2 linked regions of the Homo sapiens genome follow. The main gene of each other region encodes a partner of the protein of the gene in region 2 in a complex. Each region holds a gene or a part of one and is shown on either strand. Other genes may lie near its edges. A codon is read from its position in the direction of its gene.

Region 1 (12,479 bases), on a different chromosome or scaffold from region 2:
TTTTTTTGAGATGGAGTCTCGCTCTGTCGCCCAGGCTGGAGTGCAGTGGCACAATCTTGGCTCACTGCAGCCTCTGTCTCCCAGGTTCAAGTGATTCTCCTGCCTCAGCCTCCCGAGTAGCTGGGACCACAGGTGCCTGCCACAATGCCCGGCCAATTTTTGAGTTTTTAGTAGAGATGGGGTTTCACCGTGTTGGCCAGGCTGGTCTCAAACTCCTGACCTCAAATGATCTGCCTGCCTCAGCCTCCCAAAGTGCTGGGATTATAGGCATCAGCCACCGCACCCGGCCCTCTGCTCCAAACTTTCTAGTATGTCCACCAACAGATGAATGGATGAACAAAATGTGGTCCAACCATACAACAGAATATGACCCAGTCATAAAAAGGAACGGAGTACTCATCCATGCTATACAATGTGGATGAACCTTGAAGACAGGATGCTGAGAGAAGCCAGACACTAAAGGTCACTTAGTGTGAGATTCCATTAACAGACATGTCCAGCATAGGCTCATTCATAGAAACAGAAAGCTGATTAGCAGTTGTCTGGGGCTGGGGGGGCACATGGGGAAACTGGAAGGGTTGGTATCCTTTTTTTTTTTTTTTTTGAGATGGAGTTTCTCTGTCACCAGGCTGGAGTGCAGTGGTGCGATCTTGGCTAGCCTGGAGTGCAGTGGTGCGATCTTGGCTAGCCTGGAGTGCAGTGGTGCAATCTTGGCTCACTGCAACCTCTGCCTCCCGGGTTCAAGTGATTCTCCTGCCACAGCCTCCCAAGTAGCTGGGACTGCCGGCACGCGCCACCATGCCCAGCTAATTTTTCTATTTTTAGTAGAGACAGGGTTTCACCATGTTGGCCAGGCTGTTCTCGATCTCTTGACCTCGTGATCTGCCCACCTCAGCCTCCCAAAGTACTGGGATTACAGGCGTGAGCCACTGTGCCACCGTGCGTGCCTGGCCTTGGGTTGGTGTCTTTTTGGCATAATAAAAATGTTCCCAAATTGCCTGTGGTGATGGTTGTGGAACTCTGTGAATGTACCCAAAGCCACTGAATTGTACACTGCAAATGGGTGAACTGTATGCGAATTCTATCTCATAAAGCTATTTTTTTTTAAAGCCTCTTTCAGTGGCTTCCCTGCCCCACTTCCCTCGAATAAAGTGGAAACAGCTGCTCATGTGTGTCAAGGTCCTGCCTAACCTGGTCACCTCTCAGCACTCTGGCTCATGACCTGCTCTCTCTGGCCACACCATCCACACAGCGATTTCCTCAACATTCCAAGCATGCTCCTGACTCGGGGCTTTGATGTTTGCTCTTCCCTGCCCTGGAAAGTTCTTTCTTCTGTAGCTACCTGGCTATCCCTTTGTTCAGGTTCCCATTCAAGTTCCCTCCTCAGGGGAACCTTTCTGACCATCCTCATCAGTTCTCCCTTTACCTATTTATTAACATAACTGACATACATGTATGTATCTGCTGCATGGACCTGGGCATAATGCTTGCAGATCATAATGGCCCATGTAGATGAGAAACAGCCAGACCCAGCCTTTGCCACCAGGAGTTTGTTCAAGTGCCTGCTGGGGAAGACTTGAGGCCCAGGCCTGGCTGGGCCTCTCTGAACCCAGGGTGGGGATGCTAATTCCATCCATCCAGCCCCAGCACTGGACTTTCGCCCTCTCAAACGTAAGCTCCCTGGGGCAGGGAACTGACAAGTCTCATCCACTGCTATTACCTCCAGTGACTGAACACACAGGGGTTGAATACACATTTGCTAGAAGCTGGTACCCCAGTCCTGCACGCACCTTGACTCACCTGTGTCCTTTCTGCAGCCCTCTTGCCAAAATGGCTGCCTGGCCCACAGAAGACACTGGCAAAATATGGCTGGATCAAAGTATTAAAGCGCAACAGGGTCTACGCGGTGTTGAGCGGTTCACAAAGCACTTTCTCAAATGCCAACCCTTTCACTGGAGGAATCAATGGGCCCCTGAGGAGGCAGTGGCGCCGAGCCAGGCTGGTGAGAACCCATTCCAGGGAGCTACAGGGCCAAGTTCACACCACAAATGATCTATGGGGCTTCTGAGAATAGGCTTTGATGAAATGTAACTTTTGGCAAAATGTTAAGGATTGAGTGGCAGAAAATGAATAGCCACTCAATCCTTGTCTATAAAGAAAACCCAGAGGTACACTCAGCCAATATAGAATTGCTTCTTTTTTTTTTTGGAGACAGAGTTTTGCTCTGTTGCCCAGGCTGGAGTGCACTGGCACAATCTTGGCTCACTGCAACCTCTGCCTCCTGGATTCAAGCGATTCTCCTGCCTCAGCCTCCTGAGTAGCTGGGAATACAGGCAAGCGCCACCACGTATGGCTAATTTATGGAATCACCTTTAAGCATTAAGGTGATACTGCTTCAGGACTAGACAGCCCAGTGTGCCTGGGCTTCCTAAAACATTCCCCATTTCCTGTCACACGTGTACAGGGACACAAAAAATCGAGGAGCACTGTTAGGTTGGCCAAGCTCCACAGCAGCACTCCGCCCTACACTCCTCTGGGTTTTATTAACATGCCAAATTTAATTAGGAAGTGTAAACTTTATGAGGCCTAAGAATTATGAGGTCTGACCTTCAAGGTCATGGTGAATTAGACTTTCCTAGAAGACAGAAGGCTACAAATGGAAGGAGGGGAATGAAGGGGTGGGAGGGAGGGATCTTAGGGTCAGGTGCCACCTCCACCTTGCTAGGTAACTTTCACCAAGTCACATCCTCATCTGCAAATGGAAGAAAGCCTCTTTAAAGCTCAAAGTAACTCTAAAGAGGGGGGTTGGGCTGGGCGCGGTGGCTCATGCTTGTAATCCCAGCACTTTGGGAGGCCAAGGTGGGCGGTCACGAGGTCAGGAGTTCGAGACCAGCCTGGCCAACATGGTGAAACCCCATCTCTACTAAAAAAAAAAAAAAAAAAATACAAAAATTAGCTGGGCATGGTGGCAGGTGCTTGTAATCCCAGCTACTTGGGAGGCTGAGACAGGAGAATCGCTGGAACCTGGGAGGTGGAAGTTGCAGTGAGCCGAGATCGCGCCACTGCACTCCAGACTGGGTGACAAAGAGAGACTGTCTCAAAAAAAAAAAAAAAAAAAGAGGGGGGTTTGTGGGGAAGGCTGGGAAACTGGGATCTGAGTGAATGCAAGCCAGTCTGCTCACAGTTAACATCATTTCTTTCTTTCTTTTATTTTTATTATTATTTTTTAAGACAGGGTCTCGCTCTGTTGCCCAGGCTGGAGTGCAGTGACACCATCACAGCTCACTGCACCTTGACCTCCTGGGCTCAATCGATCCTCCCACCTTGGCCTCCCAAGTGGCTGGGTCTACATGGGTGAGCCACTGTGCCCGGCTGATTTTATTTTATTTTTTGTAGAGATGGGGTTTGCCATGTTGCCCAGGCTGAATTAACGCCACTTCTTGATTGGTTGGAGCACAAGAATTACCCTAAAGTTTAGCCTTGGAGTGGGGGAGGGGGAAGAATTCAGAAACATCTGTCTTCAGAGGCTGGATGCTGTCACTGCAGGAGCCATTCATTTGCTTCCTCTAGATAGCCTCTGGTTGTGGTGACAACCCCTTATTGTCTAATTCTAATCCTCAACCACCAGGGCACTAGGCTGGGCAGACAGTGTCACTCCTGCTCTAAAGACAGCAGGGCTCAGAGAGGGGTAGTGCACATTCAAGGGCAAACAGCAACTGGAAACCAGACGTAATGATTTCCAGTCAATTCTCTCTATTTTACATCTGGCATATAACTGTTTTATAAAGCACAGCTCCGCTGGGTGCGGTGGCTCATGCTTGTAATCCCAGCACTTTGGGATGCCAAGGCAGGCAGATCACAAGGTCAGGAGTTCGAGACCAGCCTGACCAACACAGTGAAACCCTGTATTTACTAAAAATACAAAAATTAGCTGGACGTGGTGGCGGGTGCCTATAATCCCAGCTACTAGGGAGGCTGAGGCAGGAGAATTGCTTGAACCCGGGAGGCAGAGGTTGTAGTGACCCGAGATCCTGCCGCTGGATTCCAGCCTGGGCAAAAGAGCTAGACTCCGTCTCAAAAAATAAAATAAAATAAAATAAATAAAGCATAGCTCCTGGAGGAGGGCAAGAATGGAATTAGCACATTATCTTGGGGTTCAGGGAGATAACACGATTCTGTCAAAGTGACACAGTAAAGCAAAGGCCATTCCCTAGGTTTTCTTGAGTCGGAATAAACTCCTGGACTTAGTGACCGTTCCCCCACTTTCCCCATCCCTAGCAGGGCTACAGAGCTCACAAGCCACTCAAATAGGTGTTACTCCTGGGTCAAACCTTTTCATTGTGGGCCAGGACTGCTTTTGTGGCACTGAGAGAGGTCAGCTCCACTTCTGTGGACATCACAACTGAGATGCACCAAGCCAATTCTGTTCAACCACAATGTGGGCTGGCCCTACAGGAAAAGCTGTTCTAAAGTGACAGCTGGAGTCTTGGGCCCTTTGATAGGGAAGTCAAGGCTGTCTGTGGCAGTGGCTGATTTAGTTTCTCGCTGAGGCTTTTATCTTGCATCTTCTTGGGGATGACAGGTCCCAGGGCAGGCAGTGCTGTCACTTGCCATTGCTGTCATTCCTGGAGCAGGATGAAAGGTGGGCAGGGAAAAGGTCCTGACTCTTCTTATCATTCCTTCTAGAGGAAAATACGCTTATGAGGGGAAGCATGGTCAGGGAGAGGGGCTCAACCTCTGAACGCTCCAGAGAAAAGAGCAGGAATGGTGTGGGTTAGAGTCCCGGCTCCAAGGTGCATTAGCTGAGCTTGTCATCAGCTGGGAGTGTGCAGTGGCATCTCTCTAGGAGAGCTAAGCCTCGAGTTTTGGGTTGAGACACAGCCAGGTTCAAATTCCATCAAATCCCATTCTCACCACGTGCAGACTGTGTGGCCTTGGGCAAGTTCCATGCCCTCCCTGAGCCTCAGATTCCTCATCTTGTCAGACGGGCTCATAACAGCACTTAACACCAAGAACTGAAGAGTGTGAAAATGCACGTGAAGCACTTGGCACATAGTAAATGCTCATTAAGGTGAGATGCCACTGTCTTTTTCCCATGGCCAATTCCCCATGACTCAGTTTCCACTTCTGTAAGGCAAGAGCCTCAAAAGAACCGCTTCGAGGGCTGCTGCTAGGACAGATCGAGAGGACGGGCGCGAAGACCCCAGCCCAAGACATAACACGCCCTAACGAGCGGGCTGAGGGTCGGAGCCTCAGTCTCCCTATCTGCAAAATGGGCACCTGGTCTCCCCCACCACGGCCCAGGAACCCCCGAACGGCGGTGCAGGCGACTGCTCTTCTCCCTTTAGGCCCCCTCGACCCTCTCAGCGCCCTCGGCCCGTCCAGCCCTGTAGATCCCTCAGCCCCAGCCCCTCAGGGGCGCGCCCAGCCCGGGCCTCCGGCGCCCCCAGCCATTCCCCGGTCCCGTTACCTATGGTGGAGATAAAAGTGGAGTTGAAGGCGTCCTCGGAGAAGCGGAACAGGACACAGGTCTTCCCCACCCCCGAGTCCCCGATCAGCAGCAGCTTGAACAGGTAATCGTAGGTCTTCGCCATATTACACTCTCTCCCCGACGGGAAGTGCGGCCAGCGCCTCTCCACTGGCCACCAGCACCGTCCATCAGCACCGAGCCCGCCCCTTATTGGCTCCAGGCCCGCTGCGCGTCACCGCGGCCGACGCCCGCCCCTGCGTCCCGCCAGTCGCGGGGAGACCTTGGGAGGGGGCGAGCGGAGCGCGGAGCCGGAAGCAGCCCGAGCGCACCTCCCATTGGCCGGCACTAGGGAGAGCACGGGCTCTGATTGACCAGCAGTGAAGAGTCGCGGGGCTTCAAATGGGGACGAGGCGGGGGCGTGGCATTATGTGGCCCCCGCCTTCCACCCCCGACTCGGGCGGCCCGGCCCCGCCCCACTGTAGGAGAGGGAAGGCAGGGAGCGGCGCCAACCGCTCGCGCGCCGGCAGCCTGGCGGGGCGTGGCTTGGGGTGCGTGCGCACGCGCGCCCGGAGTTCCGTTAGGCGACAGCAGAGGGCGCACGCCAGTAGTTGGGGCGGGTGTCTCTGGGTCCCGCCCTCACAGCTCGCGCAGGCGCAGTAGGCACCGAGGCGAGCGCGGGAAAGCAAGGTAGCGCTCTCAGCCTTGTCTGCGGCCTGCGAGTCGGGGCAGTGGGGGCCTAGGGAGGAAGGAGAGAGGAGGAGCTGTATACTCGAAAAGTGACCCAAGCCGGACGCGGTGGTTCACGCCTTTAATTCCCACACTTTGGGAAGCCGAGGCGCGTGGATCACGAGGTCAGGAGTTCAAGACCAGCCTGGCCAAGATGGTGAAACCCCGTTTCTACTAAAAATACAAAAATTAGCCGGGCGTGGTGGCGGGCGCCTGTAATCCCAGCCACTCGGGAGGCTGAGGCAGAGAATTGCTTGAATCTGGGAGGCGGAGCTTGCAGTGAGCCGAGATCGCGCCATTGCACTGCAGCGTGGGCGACAGAGAGAGACTCCGTCTCAAAAAAAATAAATAAAAGTGACCCAAGACGAGCTCCGAGGTCTGCGGCCTAGCGATCTGCTTAGAGATACCCAAGGCCTCCGCCATCTGAGCGGCTTCACCGCCACAAGCTGTGCCCGGAAGCGCGCGCCGGCCTCCTCAGGGCCCGCCCTCGGCCACCTTAGGGGTTGTCCGGGCCAGCCCGGGGATGGTGGGGGGGGAGGGGTTAGAGCAGTGAGGATGCTGGGTCCTATCTAGGGGCCAGGGCTCTCAACGTTGAAAAAACTGGCCGGGGCGTTGGCTCCCGTCTGTGATCCCAGTGCTTTGGGAAGCCAGGAGGTTGAGGGTGCAGTAAGCCGTGATCGCCCCACTGCAATTCGGCCTGGGCGACAGAGCAAGACCCTATCAAAAGAAAAAAAGGCTGGGCGCGGTGGCTCAGGCCTGTAATCCCGCACTTTGGGAGGCCGAGGCGGGCGGATCAGGAGGTCAGGAGATCGAGACCATCCTGGCTAACGCGGTGAAACCCCGTCTCTACTAAAAACACAAAAAATTACCCGGGAGTAGTGGCGGGCGCCTGTAGTCCCAGCTACTCGGGAGGCTGAGGCAGGAGAATGGTGTGAACCCGGGAGGCGGAGCCTGCAGTGAACCGAGATCGCGCCACTGCACTCCAGTCTGGGCGACAGAATGAGACTACGTCTCAAAAAAAAAAAAAAAAAAAAAAAGAAAGAGAAAAACAGAGGAGAGATACATTTGGAAAATCGGGCTTGCAGCTGGGTGTGGTGGCTCAGGCCTGTAATCCCAGCACTTTGGGAGTCAGCACTTTGGGAGGCAGGAGGATTGCTTGAGCTTAGGAGGTCAAGACCAGCCCGGACAAGATAGGGAGATCCCCATCTCTACAACAAATAAAATTAGCTGGGCGTCATGGTGCACGCTTGTAATCCCAGCACTTTGGGAGGCTGAGGTGGAGGTTCATTGGAGGCCAGGAGGTGGAGACCAGCCTGGGCAACATAGCAAGACCTCCATCTCTGCAAAAAAAAAAAAGTTTTTTGGCCAGGCGAGGTGGTTCACACCTGTAATCCCAGCACTTTGGGAGGCCAAGGCAGGTGGATCACCTGAGGTCAGGAGTTCCAGACCAGCCTGGCCAACATGGTAAAACACCATCTCTGCTAAAAATACAGAAACTAGGCAGGTGTGGTCATGTGCGCCTGTAGTCCCAGCTACTCAGGCGGCTGAGGCACCAGAATTGCTTGAATCTGGGAGGCGGAGGTTGCAGTGAGCCGAGATTGTGTCACTGCATTCCAGCCTGGGTGACAGAGCAAGGCTCCATCTCAAAAAACAAAAAATTTTTTTAAAAAATTAGCCAGGTATGGTGGTGTATGCTTGTAGTCCCAGCTACTCAGGAGGCTAAGGTGGGAGGATCCCTTGAGCCCAGGAGGTCAAGGCAGCAGTGAGCTGTGATCGCACCATTGCACTCCAGCCTGGGCGACGGAGCAAGACCCTGACTTTTTTTTTTTTCTGAGATGGAGTCTCTCACGGTCACCAGGGCTGGAGTGCAATGGCGCGATCTTGGCTCACTGCAACCTCTGCCTCCCGGGTTCAGGCGATTCTCCTGCCTCAGCCTCCCAAGTAGCTTGGATTCCAGGCACCCACCACCACGCCTGGTGTGGTGTATTTTTTTGTATTTTTAGTAGAGATGGGGTTTCACTGTGTTGGCCAGGCTGGTCTCGAACTCCTGACCTCGTGATCCGCCTGCCTCCACCTCCCAAAGTACTGGGATTACAGGCGTGAGCCCCTGCACCCGGCCCCTGACTCTTAAAATTTTAATCCCAGTACCAGCCCAGCAAAACGATGTTATTGTTTTTTTCCTGTTTAATGGTGAGAAAACTGAAGCCAGAGGAGGTTAAGTGACTTTTCCCCCTTCCTGCTTAAAAGTGGGAATTTGGTATCTGAACTCAGAGTGCCAAGCTTCCCAGGCCGCAGTTTGATCACTAGGGCTCCCTGCTTCTTAGAGATGGTCCAGTCTGTTCTAGGTCACTCTGGGGCCTCCGGGGCCTTGAGGCTTACTTAAGGATCTGTGGAAGGAGGGCCCAGCCTTTCCTCCTCCCTTCCACTTCAGCTCATTCTTCTGCTAATCTAGCTCTGGTTAAAAAAGCTTCAACCAGAGGCATTGACCACCTACAGGCCTCAGCCTCTGTGGTATTTGATAGTCTTGATCACCTCTGAATATTCTTTTTTCTTGGTATTATCCTCATTTATTTACTTATTTTTGAGACAGGGTCTTGTTCTGTGGCCCAGGCTGGAGAGCAATGGTGTGATTTCACTCACTGCAACCTCCGCCTCCCAGGCTCCAGTGATTCTCCCACCTCAGCCTCCAGAGTAGCTGGAACTACTGGCATGCACCACCACGCATGGCTAATTTTTATTTTTTGTAGAGATGGGGTCTTGCTATGTTACCCAGGCTGGTCTGGAATTCCTGGGCTCAAGCCATCCTCCCACCTCAGCCTCCCAAGTAGCTGGGACTACATCTGCACGCTACTATGGCAGGCTAATTTTTTTATTTTTTGTAGAAATGGGGTCTCCCTATGTTGCCCAGGCTGGTCTCAAACTCCTGGGCTCAAGAGATCCTCCAGCCTCCACCTCCCAAAAAGCTGGGATCACAGGTATGAGCCACCATGCCTGGCCCTATACCATTATTATTTTTTTTTTTGAGATGGAGTTTCACTCTTTGTTGCCTAGGCCGGAGTGCAGTGGCACGATCTCAGCTCACTGCAACCTCTGCCTCCCGGGTTCCAGTGATTCTCCTGTCTCAGCCTCCTAAGTAGCTGGGATTACAGGGGCCCACCACCACATCTGGCTAATTTTTGTATTTTTAGTAGAGATGGGATTTCACCACATTGGCCAGGCTGGTCTCGAACTCCTGAGCTCAGGTGATCTGCCCACTTCGGCCTCCCAAAGTGCTGGGATTACAGGTGTGAGCCACCACGCTTGGCCCCTATCCCCCTTTTTTTTTTTTTTGAGATGGAGTCTCGCTCTTTCACCCAGGCCGGAGTAAAGTGGCATGATCTCGGCTCACTGCAACCTCTGCCCGCCGGGTTCAAGCGATTCTTCTGCCTCAGCCTCCCGAGTATCTGGGATTACAGGCACGTGCCACCACGCTCGGCTAATTTTTGTTATTTTTAGTAGAGACAGGGTTTCACCATGTTGGCCAGGCTGGTCTTGAACTCCTGACATCAAGTGATCCCCTCAAAGTGCTGGGATCACAGGCATAAGCCACTGTGCCCGGCCCTGTCCCTATTTTATTTGCTGGTTTCTTCTCCCTACCACCTCTGCCTCTGCCTCCCCTTCTTTGTTTGTTTGTTTTTTCCTCAGACCCCATTGAAGTCTTTTTGAGGTGGGGGAGGGGTGGGTTCTGCCTGTCCCTTAGTGTTTGTGGTCCTCGTTGTTCTGTCTCTGTTCTCACTTTCTGGGGGCTCCTAATCCATGCTGACCATTCTCAGTGTTTTATCCTTAGCCCAGCCATCTCTTCACATCCACCTGCGTTCAGGACATCTCCCTTTGGATTTGTCAGATACTCCTAGCTCAGCATGTTCACAACTGAACCCATCAGCCAATACCCAGACTGGCTTGTCCTGATTTTCCTTAGGAGTGAAACTTAAGCTGTCTTTGACATCTGCCTTTCATCTCTCATCCGTCACATTCTGGTTTTTAAGGAGGTTCTAAATAGCTCTTGAGGGCCGGGCGCGGTGGCTCATGCCTGTAATCCCAGCACTTTGGGAGGCCGAGGTGGGTGGATCACCTGAGTTAGAAATTTGAGACCAGCCTGGGTAACATGGTAAAACCCCGTTTTTCCTAAAAATTAAAAAAATTAGCCGGGTGTGGTGGGCATCTGTAATTCCAGCTACTCAGGAGGCTGATGCAGGAGAATGGCTTGAATCCGGGAGGCGGAGGTTGCAATGAGCCAAGATTGCACCACTGCACTCCAGCCTGGGTGACAGAGCAAGACTCTGTCTCAAAAATAAAAAATAAAAAAACAAATAGCTCTTGAATTGCATTCTTCCATTTCCATTGCCACAGTGGAATCATTACATTTCTCCACTGGTCTCCCTGACCATTTTCTCTAACCCAGATTCCACCCTGCAGTGTGCTTATTCTAAAATACTTTAGGCTGGGCACGGTGGCTCATGCCTGTAATCCCAGCACTTGGGGAGGCTGAGGCAACCAGGTTACTTGAGGTCTGGCATTTCAGACCAGCCTGGGCAACATGGCGAAACCCTGTCTCTATTAAAAATACAAAAATTAGCTGGGTACACATCTGTCGTCCCAGCTACTCGGGAGGTGGAGATGGGAGGATTGCTTGAGCCCAGGAGGTCGAGGCTGCTGTGAGCCATGATCACGCCACTGCCCTCCAGCCTGGGTGACAAGAGTGGAATCCTGTCTCAAAAAGCAAAACAAACAAACAAACAAACAAAAAAACCACTTCCTTTAATAGCCATCTGTGGTCTCTGGGCAGGATAAAGTCCAAAATCTTCCTCTTAGCGTTTGAAATCCCTCACAGTCTGGTTCTGACCTCATGCTGTGTTCCAGCCATACTTCATGGCATTGGGAACTCCCCAAAAGTTGGGACAGGTCCGTTGAACACAGTGAAGTGTGAAGTGCTGAGGCCATAAGCATGACTAAAACAGCATCCCGAGATGAGATTACAACCCAAGTGGGGAGGGAGGAGGGAGAAACAGACACACAAAGGAGGAACTGTGGTCAAATCATGGCAGGGCCTTTATTGGAGGGTGTGACTTTATTCATTCACATTCTCTGCACCAACCATCTGAATCAGCCCAGTGCCCATTAAAGGTTGGATTGGCCTAAAGGAAATGCTTTAATTGTATACTTTTATTATAACTACATTTTCGGTTATTTATTTTATTTATTTATTTAAAGACAGAGTCTGTCACTCAGGCTGGATTGCAGTGGCGCGATCTCAGCTCACTGCAGCTTCCACCTCCCAGGTTCAAATGATTCTCCTGCCTCAGCCTCCTGAGTAGCTGATTATAGGCACCCACTACCACACTCAGCTAATTTTTATATTTTTAGTGGAGACGGGGTTTCACCATGTTGGCCAGGCTGGTCTCAAACTCCTGAATTCAAGTGATCTGCCCACCTCGGCCTCCCAAAATGTTGGGATTACAGATGTCAGCCACCGTGCTCAGCCAGTTATTTATTTTTTATTAATTTATTTTTGGAGAATGGGATCTCGCTATATTGCCCAAGCAGGTCTTGAACCCCTGGCTGGGCTCGTTATCCTCCCCTGTCTCTGCCTGCTGTTTTTTTTGAGACAGAGTTTTGCTCTTGTTGCCAAGGCTGGAGTGCAGTGGCAGGATCTCAGCTCACGGCAACCTCCGCCTCCCAGGTTCAAGCGATTCTCCTGCCTCAGCCTCCCGAGTAGCTGGGATCACAGGCATGCGCCACCACACCTGGCTAATTTTGTATTTTTGGTAGAGATGGGGTTTCTCCATATTGGTCAGGCTGGTCTCGAACTCCCAACCTCAGATGATCCGCCCGCCTTGGCCTCCCAAAGGGCTGGGATTACAAGCGTGAGCCACCGTGCCCGGCCTGTTATTTTATTTTTGAGACAGAGTCTTGATCTGTTGCCCAAGCTGGAGTGCAGTGGCGCAATCTTGGTTCACTGCCACCTCTGCCTCTTGGGTTCAAGCAATTCTCCTGTCTCAGCCTCCCAAGTAGCTGGGATTACAGACGTGTGCCACCACGCCTGGCTAATTTTTGTATTTTTAGTAGAGACAGGGTTTCACCATGTCGGCCAGGGTGGTCTCCAACTCCTGACCTCAGGTGATCTGCCTGTCTGTGACCTCAGATGATCTGCCCACCTTGGCTTCCCAAAGTGCTGGGATTACAAGTGTGAGCCACAGCGCCCGGCTTGTTATTTTTTCGATAACAGAAAGTTGTCTGCAGACTC
Region 2 (11,576 bases):
GTACCCATGCTGGGAGTGAGGAACTGGGAGGGGGTCTTTCAGGGACAGGAAAGTGGGTGGCTGAGGCATCTGGGAAGTGGCACGTCCCGTAGGCAGCTGAGGGGGAATAGGCAGGATGGGGTGACGCTGTCGAGTGGCACTGGTTTCGGGGAGCAGCTGCAGCCTGAGCCTGGATGAGGGGCTGTCAGGGAGGACAAGGGCTTGAGAGCCAGAAAGGACGAGAGTGTTGGACACCAGAGCCGAAGAGTGTCTGGGACCCGGGGATGAAAGAGATCGTCATGAGTCTCACTGAATTGGGCCAGGAACCAATGAGCTCAAGTCAAGGAGGGGACAAAGGGACAGGTGGGAACCAAGGTGGGCCTGGGCCACAGGGGAAGGGGAGCCAGAGTAGGGAGAAGGGCACAACAGCATGTCCTAGTAGAGACCATGGAGGAGGAGTGGGGGAGAAGGTCAGGAACAGCTGGGGATGGGAAGCAGATCAGAACACCTAAAGCAGGTGAGTCAGGCCACGCCTCCGCCGGCCATAGCCCCAGGCCACCAGGCCAGTCCAGCCCACCCCTGGCGGGGGAATCCAGCCCTGTCTCTCCATGGGAGCCAGCACAGGGCCTAGGAGGGGGCGCATCTCACTACTCTTCTACAGGGCTGGGCACGCAGTACATCCTCAAATGCGCCTGTGGCGACCCTGCCCATTCAGTCCAAGAATTGACACCGAAGACCTCCAATAGCTAGTGTGTATACTGAGCACCCATTATGTGCCAGGCACCCCACCAGCCATGATCCATCCAATCTGCACGACCAGGCAGCCCCCTTCTTACCATATCCTATTTTGATTTGCATCTCCCTCCCGCTACCTCATTTCCAAAGACCTATTGGGCATAAATCATGTGCAGAGCTCGGAGGGTCTAGGACAAGCAGGATTCTAATGAGGATGTCTGCCCCCAACACCCATGTCCTGATTAAGGAACAGCAGGAAAGATCTCCACCTGTTGAGGGGTAGAGTAGGCAGTTAGATCACGGAGGGCTTCCAGGGAGCAGCAACAGTGAGGGTTATACAACCCCTTCCCAATGAAGAGGCCTGTGTGCCTGACCTGGAGCCCTCGGGCCATACTTCAGACTCTTGTCTCACGGCCTCTAGTCCCCTGTGACTTGGGCCTTACAGGCAGGAGCCCACAGATCCATGCCCTTAGAATAGCCAAGGCCCAGGGCAGTGAAGTGACTTGCTCAGGATCACACAGCCAGTTGATGGCCCCTACAGCCCTGCCTGCCGCAAAAACATGCTCCCCAACCCCTGGGAGGTTGGAGTGGTCTCATCTCATTCCTGGGCCATCCATCAATGCCTGGCCCTCTCTAGCCATAGGTATGATGAGCCCCGTCTCTGGGGAAACTGAGACCAGGGGGCTGGAACAGTGTCATGCAGAAACTTGAACGCTGGCTTCTGCTGACCAAGTCCCAAGTGTCCAGCACCATGTTAGATACAGAAGTACTCAAGACGCTGTCCTCACCTCGTCACCTTGGAGCAGGCTTGGCACCCAAAACTATGAATGTGTGAAACTGTGGGGAATCGGAAGGGGGACAACCCAGTTTGGAGGGGCACCTAAAGTCAGACTGGAGCTGCCTCTGGGTTTGGAGTTCAGGGCCCATGCTCAGGAGTCCCAAAGAAGAGGACCCACCCAGGCTGTGGCAGAGTCCAGCCACTGCCGCCCACCCCAGAAGAGTAGCCCAGGGCTGGAGCCATGACCAGGACCTGGCCATTAACAAAGCACAGCCACCAAGAGAAAGATCTCAGTTCATTTCACAGGTGAGGAAACGAAGCCCAGAAACATCACTGGCCCCGCTGGGGTCACCAACTCCTAATCCCAGCTCCTCCTGTTCTAGGATCAACAGTCCCAAATATACACCTGCCAGAGCTGTCATCAGACTTGGTCAGAGTAACCTGGCAAGTATGACTCTGAACAGGACACCTCCCAACTGCTGCTGGGGTCTGGGTGAGCTCCTAGGACACCAGGCACCCAGTGGGGGCTAGCAGCTTGGCCCCTGACTCTAAATCCCTGTTTCCTCACCCAAATGGGGGGCCATAAAAATACAGAGCTCAAGGTAACCCCCAAGCTCTGCCTCACCCCTTCCGCCAGCTTCTCACTGCCCCTCATCCTTTCCATCTGCATTTATGAAGCACCCATTATGATATGAGCTCAGCACCCAGCTAGGCCCCTGGGGGTGCAGGGGTGCATGCAGGAAGTGAGCCATACTGAGGATTCTGTGGGGGTCAGCCTGGCAGCTGGCTCATCCAGAGTGTTGCTGGGAATATGGCAGGGGGGCTGGATGGTGGGGAGGGGTCCCTGCCCAGGATATAAGGCTCTCTGACTCTCCTTGAAGCAACCATCCATCTACTGGTGGCTCTCAGCTGTGTCTGGCCTTGGCCTGGGTGCCTCCAGGGAAGGACATTCTCTGACCTGCGATCACTCCCACCCCAGAAACCATTTATTTTACCTAGAGGCCCAGAGAAGGAAGTCCACACTCTCAAGGTCACACAGCAACTAACTCAGGGGCTGTGTTGCCTGAGTCCACCCAGCCGGCACAAGACACAGGCTTCCGGCAGACGAGGCTGCTCCCCAAACACAATTCACCCCGGGCAGGACTGCCCTAACCTCTCCAGGTACCACAAACCCACCTCAAGCACTTTCTCCTAAGCCAGCCTCCTTCCTCCAAGCACAATGCCAACAAATACACTAGTGGCCTTCAACTCTCTCCCTTTAAGAGTCTCAAGCCCAGGCCGGGTGCAGTGGCTCACACCTGTAATCCCAGCACTTTGGGAGGCTGAGGCGGGCGGATCACAAGGTCAGGAGATCGAGACCATCCTTGCTAACATGGTGAAACCCTGTCTCTACTAAAAACACAAAAAAATTAGCTGGGCGTGGTGGCGGGCGCCTGTAGTCCCAGCTACTCGGGAAGCTAAGGCAGGAGACTGGTGTGAACCTGGGAGGTGGAGCTTGCACTGAGCCGCGCCACTGCACTCCAGCCTGGGCGACAGAGTGACACTCTGTCTCAAAAAAAAAAAAAAAAGAGTCTCAAGTCTTAGGGCAGGGCGTGGTGGTAAAAGCCTGTAATCCTAGCACTTTGGGAGGCTGAGGCTGGTGGATCACCTGAGGTCAGGAGTTCGAGACCAGCCTGATCAATATTGTGAAACCCCGTCTCTACTAAAAATACAAAAATTAGCCGGGTGTGGTGGTGTGTGCCTGTAGTCGCAGCTACTCAGGAGGCTGAGTCAGGCGAATTGCTTGTACTCAGGCAGCGGAGGTTGCAGTGAGCTGAGATCTCGCCACTGCACTCCAGCCTGGGTGACAGAGCAAGACTCCGTCTCAAAAAAAAAAAAAGTCCCAAGCCTCTCCACACCTCACCCCTAACAGGAGCCCACTCTCTCCACACCCCCTGCTGGGGATGAAAGGCCATCCCTCCCCTAGCATCGCAGCTCAACCTTTGCTAGGTGCCATGGAGTGAAGTGGATCCTGCCTGCCTTTCCGGGGGGCTTCCCTCACTCCCCAGCTGTAGCTGGGCAGTAGCCCTCTCCTGGGACCACTCATCTGGCCCAGGGGGCACAGGAGTACAACCTGTCCCCCATTCTGGCCACATTTCCTCCACGACCTGGTCTTTCCCGGCCACGGGGAAGAGGAAGTGTTTGCCCAACTCCACAAAAACACCACAACCTTTCTGCACATACAGGGCAGGGGTCCCACATCAGATGGGCCAGGAACTGCAACTGCCCCTGAGAACCAGTGGCCTGAACAGACACAGCCACTGGGGCCACTAATCCAGGACCCAGAGTCTCTGCTACCCCACTCCAGGCTGCGGGGCCGGGGCGGGGGGGGTTCCCACTCCACACCTCTGAGAGCCTCCGTACTTCCAGAGCCCCACAAGGAGGTTCTGCCCTCAACTTGGGAGCCACCCTGGCAAAGACCCAGCCCCTCTTTCCCAGCTACACTGCTTTCCAAGAGTTCATCCAGCGAAGGGGTTGAGGGACAGGTTGGGAGGGTGGGCTGGGGGTCCTTCCTCTAGGTGCATGCCCCAGAGTCGTGCACACTCTTCCCCACACCCCAACTCTTCTCACTTGCGCTCCTGATGAGCTAAGAGGAGTTGACGCTGTCACCCCGGGACGGTCGGCTGCCCACCCTTCGCACCCTGCACCCCGAGAGACACCCCCGACCCCTCCCCCGGAGTCTCCTGGCTGCAAGTCGGCTCGCCTGCAGGCAGGGCGGGGGCGCACAGCACCTCCGGGTGGCGGCGCAGACCCGGCGGGGACCCCCGAAATCCTCCCGTCCCGGGAGGCGACCGCGGCCCAGACCCAGCGCGGGACCGCGAGCGCGCGCGGACCTACCCGCTCCACATCCCGGCGCCTCGGGGCGCCCAGGCGTCCGTTCCCAGCGCCGCCGCGTCCTCCCAGCGCCGCGTCCCCGCCCGCCGCCGACTCCGCCAGGGGCCGAGCCGCCCCACCGCCTGTCAGCCCTGCCCGCGGCCGGTCAGTAGGTCTCAGACGCCTGGGCTCGCGGCCCCCAGCCCAGCCCCGACCCTGCCCTGGGCGGGTCACGTGGCGGAGGGGGGAGCGGCCCGAGGACACGTGCCCGGCCCCGCCCCTCCGCCGGCCCGGCGCTGGGATCCGGCGCGCGCTCCCAAGGCCTGGCCCCACCCGGCCCGCCGCGCCGGGACAGGGAGACCACGGCGCTCGGAGGGAACCCGGCCCCCAACATCCCGCGGGCCGCGCCGCGCTCAGACTCCCCAGCTGACTCCTCCTCTCCAGTCGCCCTCCGCACCACCCACTTTGGGCCACCCCTGCTCAAGAACCTACAATGGCTCCCGAGCTCTCAGCTCTTCGATTCTCACACAGATTGTCACTTAAGGCCAGCAGACACCCTCCCCCCTCCTCACCCGGCCCTCCTTCCCTAGGCTGTCTGCTTAGTGCCTGTCCCTGTGCAACATCCTGCCTGCTGGGAAGGGGAGGGGACAAACCCGAAACAAGTTTTCTGAGTCCTACTCTCTGAGTTTTATCCCGAAGGAGTTTCCACTTCTGGTCCAACTCTCCTCACTCAGCCTCCTGCCACTTAACACGCTCTGCCCATCCCTGCCTTTACTCACCATCTGCCCTCTGGATAGTATTCCCCACCCCACCCCCACCGACACACACACATACACACACCTGTCTGGTCCCACATCCTCCGTGAAACCTTCCCTGAATCCCAGACGACTGGTCTACCTGTCCCTCAGTTCCTCTGTCCCACCCATTCTGAGTCCTGATCATTCGTCTCAACTTCAGCCTGGGACTGGACCAGTAAGAGCAGAACCCGTCTTCTCTCCCGCCAGGTACCATGGCTCCCACCTTCCCTGTCTAGGGGAGGACTGGGAGCGTGGTGGGAGGTACTTCCCCTTCTAGGTGCTACCAGAGGTCCCAGTGCTACCCCTCCAGGCCCACTGACTCAGGCCGCAGGCTCAAGTTAGTCAGATCTTCGTTTGAGGATACATTTTATTCATTCATTCTACTCATTCATACATTCAGCCACTCCATCTGAGCATAGACTATGGGGCATGCAAGGGGCTGGGGACCCAGCAGGAAACTGTACAGACATAGGTTCTGCCCTCCTGGGGCTCCACGTTGGTGGAGGATGGAGGATGGGGGACGTATTCTCTAAGACCTCCACGTCCAGGGCACAAATAGACAATGCTCTTTCCCCGCTGGGCACAGCGCACAGCAAGGTATGGAATCTGGAGAGTGGAGGCGAGGCTGGATTCTATGCCTTGCTTGCTCCCTTGGCCAGCACTTTGTGCAGTGAACAACCTAGGCAGTTCTCCATAGCATCCCTTCCAACTTTCTAGAATCATTCAGCCCAGGCGTCCCATAGCCATCACTCAGCAGGGCAGTTGTTTCCATGGCCACGGCTTCCAGAGGGCAGGGATTCTCTCTTTCTTGGAGCTATGTTCCCCTACCCCACCCCCAGCCCAGCTCAGGGTCTGGCCCACCCAAAGCAGATGTCCACATGTGTTTGCTGGCTTGAATCCCTCATCAGTTGGTCTTGAGCAACTGTTGTCTTCCTGGCCCTTATTTTGTTCACTATTTAGAGAAGGAGGAGAAAATGACACAAAAGGAACCCAGCACAGGGCCCTTGCCCTCCAAGTCTTCACAAGCCCCGGCAGGAGATAAGTCATGGCAACCCAGACCAGTGGGAGATAAAGGGTGGAGGAGGCGTCAGCTCAGGGCTATGTCCCTGGAGGAAGAGTCCTCAGCCTGGGAGGTCTGGTGGACCGGGGAGGCCCTTGAGCGAGGTCTTGAAGGACAAGTCTGTGGTCACCACTCTGGAAGCATCCACACTCAATTTCTAACCAAAAATAGCCTGTCATCCATGCTTCCTGCTACCATGGACTCCTAGGGCTCACTGCCTCCCCCAGTAGGGAGGACCCTCCTGCTCAGCTGAACTTGCTCCTCAGTTGAAAAGGATGGGCTCGGAGAAGTTAAGGAACCTGCCTGATATCACACCAGCCAGGGGCAGTGGGGCTGAGTCCTCTTACACCCGTTTTCCAAAAAGACCACCCAGAAACTAGAGGCTCACTGGCAGCTGCAGCTGTGTGCAGCCAGGCAGCAAGAGGTTCCTGAGCACATGCTAGGTGTCTGGCCAGTGGCAGGGAAGGGATAAATAAAAGTTGTGTCCTCTGCCTACAAGCCACTGCCCTCCTCAGCCTCCCTCCCTCTATCTCCCTCTGCCTGCTCCATCCCAAGCCTGGCAGCCTTGACCACAGACCCTTGGCTGAAGGCAGCTGAGGAGCAGGAGACAGTCAGCCTGGACAACCCAGGCCCTGATTCTGGACTTACAGGTGTGTCCTCAGCTCACTGTGTGACCCAGGATGAGTGTCTTGCCCTCTCTGAGCTTCAGTCTCCACCTCTGTACAGCCACCAAATTGGACAAGACAATCAGAGCCATTGCCTAGGACTCTCTGAGCCCAGCTTCTCACACTGGCTGCCCTGAAGCTTGCCAAGACTCCCCCTCCCCTCCATGCCCCAGGTCCTGAGCTCACCTGTCTGTGCCCCAGGGCTCTTCTCTCAAGTTCCCCTCAAGTACAGGGCACAGGCCTGATGGGGCGTAGCGGACAGTCCCTGCACTCATGGCCAGGAACACGGGACATGTCCCTCGGGCGGGGCACCCAGCGTGCTCCTCAGAAGAGTCCATGCTTGCAAGGCCAGACTGAGGGTCCCTCTGGAGGGTGCCGGGAAGGGAGGTAGCAGGAGCCTTCTTCCCCCCACCAGGCTGAGCCTCACACTAACCTTTGCTATCTCCCCAGAGCAGCAGCCTGGGAGGGAGGCACCACCTCCCAGGACAGCCGCTATCTCCTTCAACCCCGTAATTATTAACTCCTGTGGCTCCTCAGGCAGCAGAAGACACTGGGCCCTCCTTCCTGGGCTCTGGGCCAGGGGAGGTGAGACACCTCTAGGGGAGGCCCCGTGTTTCAGCCAGGCTCCCAGATGGTCCGCTTGTCCCCTCACCACGCAGGCTGGGGTGTTGGAAAGAGCCCGTCCAGCCTTGATCCTGTCATAGCTGTCATAGCTGGCTGTGTAGCCCTAGACAGGCCCTCCTGCCTGTGACCACAAACCTGAATATCCCCTTAAAACTTTGTTATTGGTGGGGCGCGGAGGCTCACGCCTGTAATCCCAGCACTTTGGGAGGCTGAGGCGGGCGGATGACCTGAAGTCAGCAGTTCAAGACCAGCCTGACCAACATGGTGAAACCCTGTCTCTACTAAAAATACAAAATTAGCCGGGCATGGTGGCGCATGCCTGTAATCTCAGCTACTCGGGAGCCTGAGGCAGGAGAATTGCTTGAACCCGGGAGGCGGAGGTTGCGGTGAGCTGAGACTGGGCCATTGCACTCCAGCCTGGGCAACAAGAGCAAAACTCCGTCTCAAAAAACAAAACAAACAAACAAAAAACTGTTATTTTTTATTTTTTTTCTTTATTTTTAAATTCTTTTTCTTAGATTTGAGATTCCCAGTTTTGTTTTTTGTTTGTTTTTAATTTTTCAAGGCAGGGTCTCGCTCCGTCACCCAGGCTGGAGGGCAGCCTCAAACTGCCCAGCTCAAGCCATCCTCCCACCTCAGCCTCCTGAGCAGCTGGGACTCCAGGCATGTGTCACCATGCTTGGCTAATTTTTAAATTTTTTTTATTTTTTGGAGAGATGGGGTCTCACTACCCTTAAAACTTCTCACCACCACCGCCCAGGAACAACTCAGCGGTAGCAGCTGGGAACACAGGCCCGGGGTCAGACGGGCTGGATTCAACCCCACTTTCAGACGGTGTGCCTTTGAGCACGTTAGCCTCTCCGTGCCTCAGTTTCTCCAACTATGAAATGGATTCTCACCCTCCAAAGCACACCAGGCCAGTTGCCATTGCCCAGATGTGCCCATTCCTCTTCTTTCCACATACTATCCCCCCTGACTGCTATCTCCACTGCATCCTGCCTCTGCTAGTAAGTTTCTCTTTTGTTCATACCCCCTCCTCTAGGAAGCCCTCCCCTGTGGGTTACTTTTTTCCTCTGCAGGCACCAGAGCCCTTAGACACATGGTTAGCCCTGCGTCATGACAAACACCCCCTGGAACTGTTGGACACTCCCACAAGAACTGAGTGGCCCTCTGGGCAGAGGCTGGGCCATCCTCGTCACCCTTCTCAGTGTCACCTTGCCTGGTACACAGACTCCATCCACCTGTGGGATGGTGTGAATGTGCCACCCTGTCTTCATTTGGCCCAAATTCTCATCCTAGTTCTGCCACTCGCTGACTGTGTGGCCTTAGGCAAGTCACTTAACCTCTCTGGGACTCAGTTTCCTCATCTATATAAAATGGGAAGTTCTCCCCTGTGAAATAGTGAGTATTAAAGCAGATAACATTTGTGGCCAGGTGCGGTGGCTCATGCCTGTAATCCCAGCACTTTGGGAGGCCGAGGTGGGAGGATCGCTTGAGCCCAGGAGACCACCCTAGGCAACAAACCGAGACCTCATCTCTATTATTTAAAAAAAAACCCGTCTCTACTAAAAATACAAAAAATTAGCCAGGCGTGGTGGCGGGCGCCTGTAGTCCCAGCTACTCGGGAGGCTGAGGCAGGAGAATGGCGTGAATCTGGGAGGCAGAGCTTGCAGTGAGCCGAGATCACGCCACTGCATTCCAGCCTGGGTGGCAAAGCGAGACTCCGTCTCAAAAAAAAAAAAAGTTTAAAAAAAGAAGACAGCTGGGGGCGTTGGCTCACGCCTGTAATCCCAGCACTTTAGGAGGCCGAGGCGAGTGGATCATCTCTGAGGTTGGGAGTTTGAGACCAGCCTGACCAACATGGAGAAACCCCATCTCTACTAAAAATACAAAATTAGCCGGGGGTGGTGGCGCATGCCTGTAATCCCAGCTACTTGGGAGGCTGAGGCAGGAGAATCGCTTGAACCCAGGAGGCAGAGGTTGCGGTGAGCTGAGATCCCACCATTGCACTCCAGCCTGGGCAACAAGAGCCAAACTCCGTCTTGGAAAAAAAAAAAAGAAGAAGAAGATAACATTTGTGAAGTGTCTGCCACAGTGTAGACTGAAAGAAGTGTTTCCTTCCTTCAGTGTTTCCTGCCCCGTCCTCCTGCCTGTACTTCCCTCTTCTTTCTGGTTAGCCTCTGAGTCCCTGCTGGGGAGAAGCTGCCAGTTCCTCACACCCCACCCTGCCCCGCCCCGCCCAGCGGATAACAGTATCTCCCACTTGGGCTTTGGGCTGCGAAGCTCTCTCAGCCTAATGCAAACCAGATGCTGTCCTCCCTTTCCTGGCAATGAATTTTCCATGGCCTGCTCCCACCCGCTTCCTGTTTTTGCTCCTCTCTGATCCCCCTGCTCAATTCTCCTGTGCCCCCACCTTCCTCTGCTGGGCAACCTCTGGGCTTACCTGGAAACAATTAATGGAAAACAGGATATGTGAAGGGTGGGGGTCTCCCCATCACCCCAACATGGCAAGAGGGGAAAGGGCTTGGCCTGGCTGGTGGCATCATATGTGGGAGTTGGTCCCTCCCTGCCAAGACCCCACCAGCCTCTTGGCCGGGGGCGGGAGAGGGGAAACTGAGTCAGAGTTGCTGGAGACTTTATGGAAAAACCTGTTATGTTTCTGGACATTTAGACACAGCTTGGACTGGATGGGAAGCTTTGAGGATCTTGTCTTTGGTTGTAACTTCTTAGAAAAAAGGCAGAGCCAGAAAAGGCCCGATTGTCTCTTCTTGCAGATGAGGAAACTGAGGCTCAGAGACTCATCCAGGGTCACTTGTGAGTCACAGCAAGAAGCAGCCAGGTCTGGGACGTCTTGTCAGTAAAAGCCGCTGCCTGAAGTCGCCTCCCCTTCTTGCTATCTCAGCGTCATTCCTGCCTGCCCTTCCCCTGCCTCTGCATAGAGCTCAGTCACGAGGGGAGGCTCACAAGGCCACCATCCGCCTGCCTGTGGTGCAGACACCTCCCAGCTGGCAGGCTCAAGGCAGCCACGCACACCTGGCTGGGCAGACTTTGAAGCAACTGGATTTTTCCCCTGCAGGGCTGGGCGCTCAGCAGAGGGGCCCTGGGTAAGCCCCAAAAACATGTGTGCAGGTGGGCCCTTCCTTGGTCCACTTGACCCTGTGAACTTCCTCAGGTCAGCCAGTGCTGGTCCTCAGAGTGAGGGCTCCCCCATTTCCATGAAAACAACAGCCCCAGGGTTCCTGAAAGCCAGTTCTGGCTGCCCCTCCCTCCGCCAGCTGTGCAGGGTGTTTGGACAGCGCGGATGGAATGTTTTGCAGCCAAAGTCCTCCCTGGATCTCTGAGCTCAGATTTCAAGCAGGAGGGAAAGAGGACGCTGGTTCTGGCTCCAGGGAGAGGGGAAGCGACTCAGGAGGTCAAACTTGGGCCTGGAGGCTCCCTGCTCTGTCCCCAGGCCTGACCAAGACCAGGCCCAGGCCCCTCAGGGAAGGGCAGGACAGAGCGTGTGGAGGCGGCCGAATGGGGTCACAGCTTTGCTCAGGCCAACCTGGTGAAGCCAGGCCCCGGGGACAGTCTGGGCTCAGGGAGGGGCTCAGCCCAGGACAGCACTTTGAGAACACTAAGATTCACAACAGACCTCCTTCGACCACCATCTCCATTTTTTAGGGAGGGCAGTTGGGGTCCAGAGAGGGCAGGCACTTGTCCCAGGTGGTACAGCATGCTGGGTACAGAGCGGGGCTAGCAGCCAGGCCTCCGGAAGCTAAACTTGCTCTTTTCACTGTCCAGGAAGTTCCCATCCTCACTCTCAGCCCCAGAGATACAGCCCCTGCCAGTAAGTCGTCATCTTTGCTTCTTCCCCAAAAGATGCAGGCAAAAGAATCTACTCAGAAAGTCAGTTCACAAAGCAAGCACAGACACTAAGCTCCAGGCCAGCCTCTGAGAGATTCGAATTAACCTACTCGAGGACAAGGCAGAGGCCCTGAGAGACAGGATTCCTGGCCCATCTCCTGCTCTGGGGCCAGAGCTCCCCCAGTTCTCCACCACAGCTGCCCAGGCCCCTCAGCGCCCCCACGAAATGAATCCCTTCT

Evidence for each region.
Region 1: the proteins of RAB3IL1 (region 2) and RAB8A are in contact, whole or in part, in a crystal structure (PDB 4LI0), measured with the Homo sapiens proteins. Residues at the interface, in NP_037533.2 of Homo sapiens: Arg104, Glu108, Leu111, Glu112, Thr115, Ala116, Phe119, Glu120, Ala122, His123, Arg127; in NP_005361.2 of Homo sapiens: Lys10 (codon at 5,567), Phe33 (codon at 5,498), Ser35 (codon at 5,492), Phe37 (codon at 5,486), Ile43, Asp44, Phe45, Lys46, Ile47, Gln60, Trp62, Thr72, Ile73, Thr75, Ala76, Tyr77, Arg79.

Annotation. Positions count from the first base shown.
Region 1 is NC_000019.10:16,105,017-16,117,495, reverse strand, and holds the start of RAB8A (ras-related protein Rab-8A), read right to left. Parts: upstream 5,608-12,479; 5' UTR 5,595-5,607; coding exon 5,471-5,594; intron 1-5,470. UniProt on the Homo sapiens protein: The small GTPases Rab are key regulators of intracellular membrane trafficking, from the formation of transport vesicles to their fusion with membranes.
Region 2 is NC_000011.10:61,912,988-61,924,563, forward strand, and holds the start of RAB3IL1 (guanine nucleotide exchange factor for Rab-3A), read right to left. Parts: upstream 4,580-11,576; 5' UTR 4,381-4,579; coding exon 4,370-4,380; intron 1-4,369. UniProt on the Homo sapiens protein: Guanine nucleotide exchange factor (GEF) which may activate RAB3A, a GTPase that regulates synaptic vesicle exocytosis. Promotes the exchange of GDP to GTP, converting inactive GDP-bound Rab proteins into their active GTP-bound form.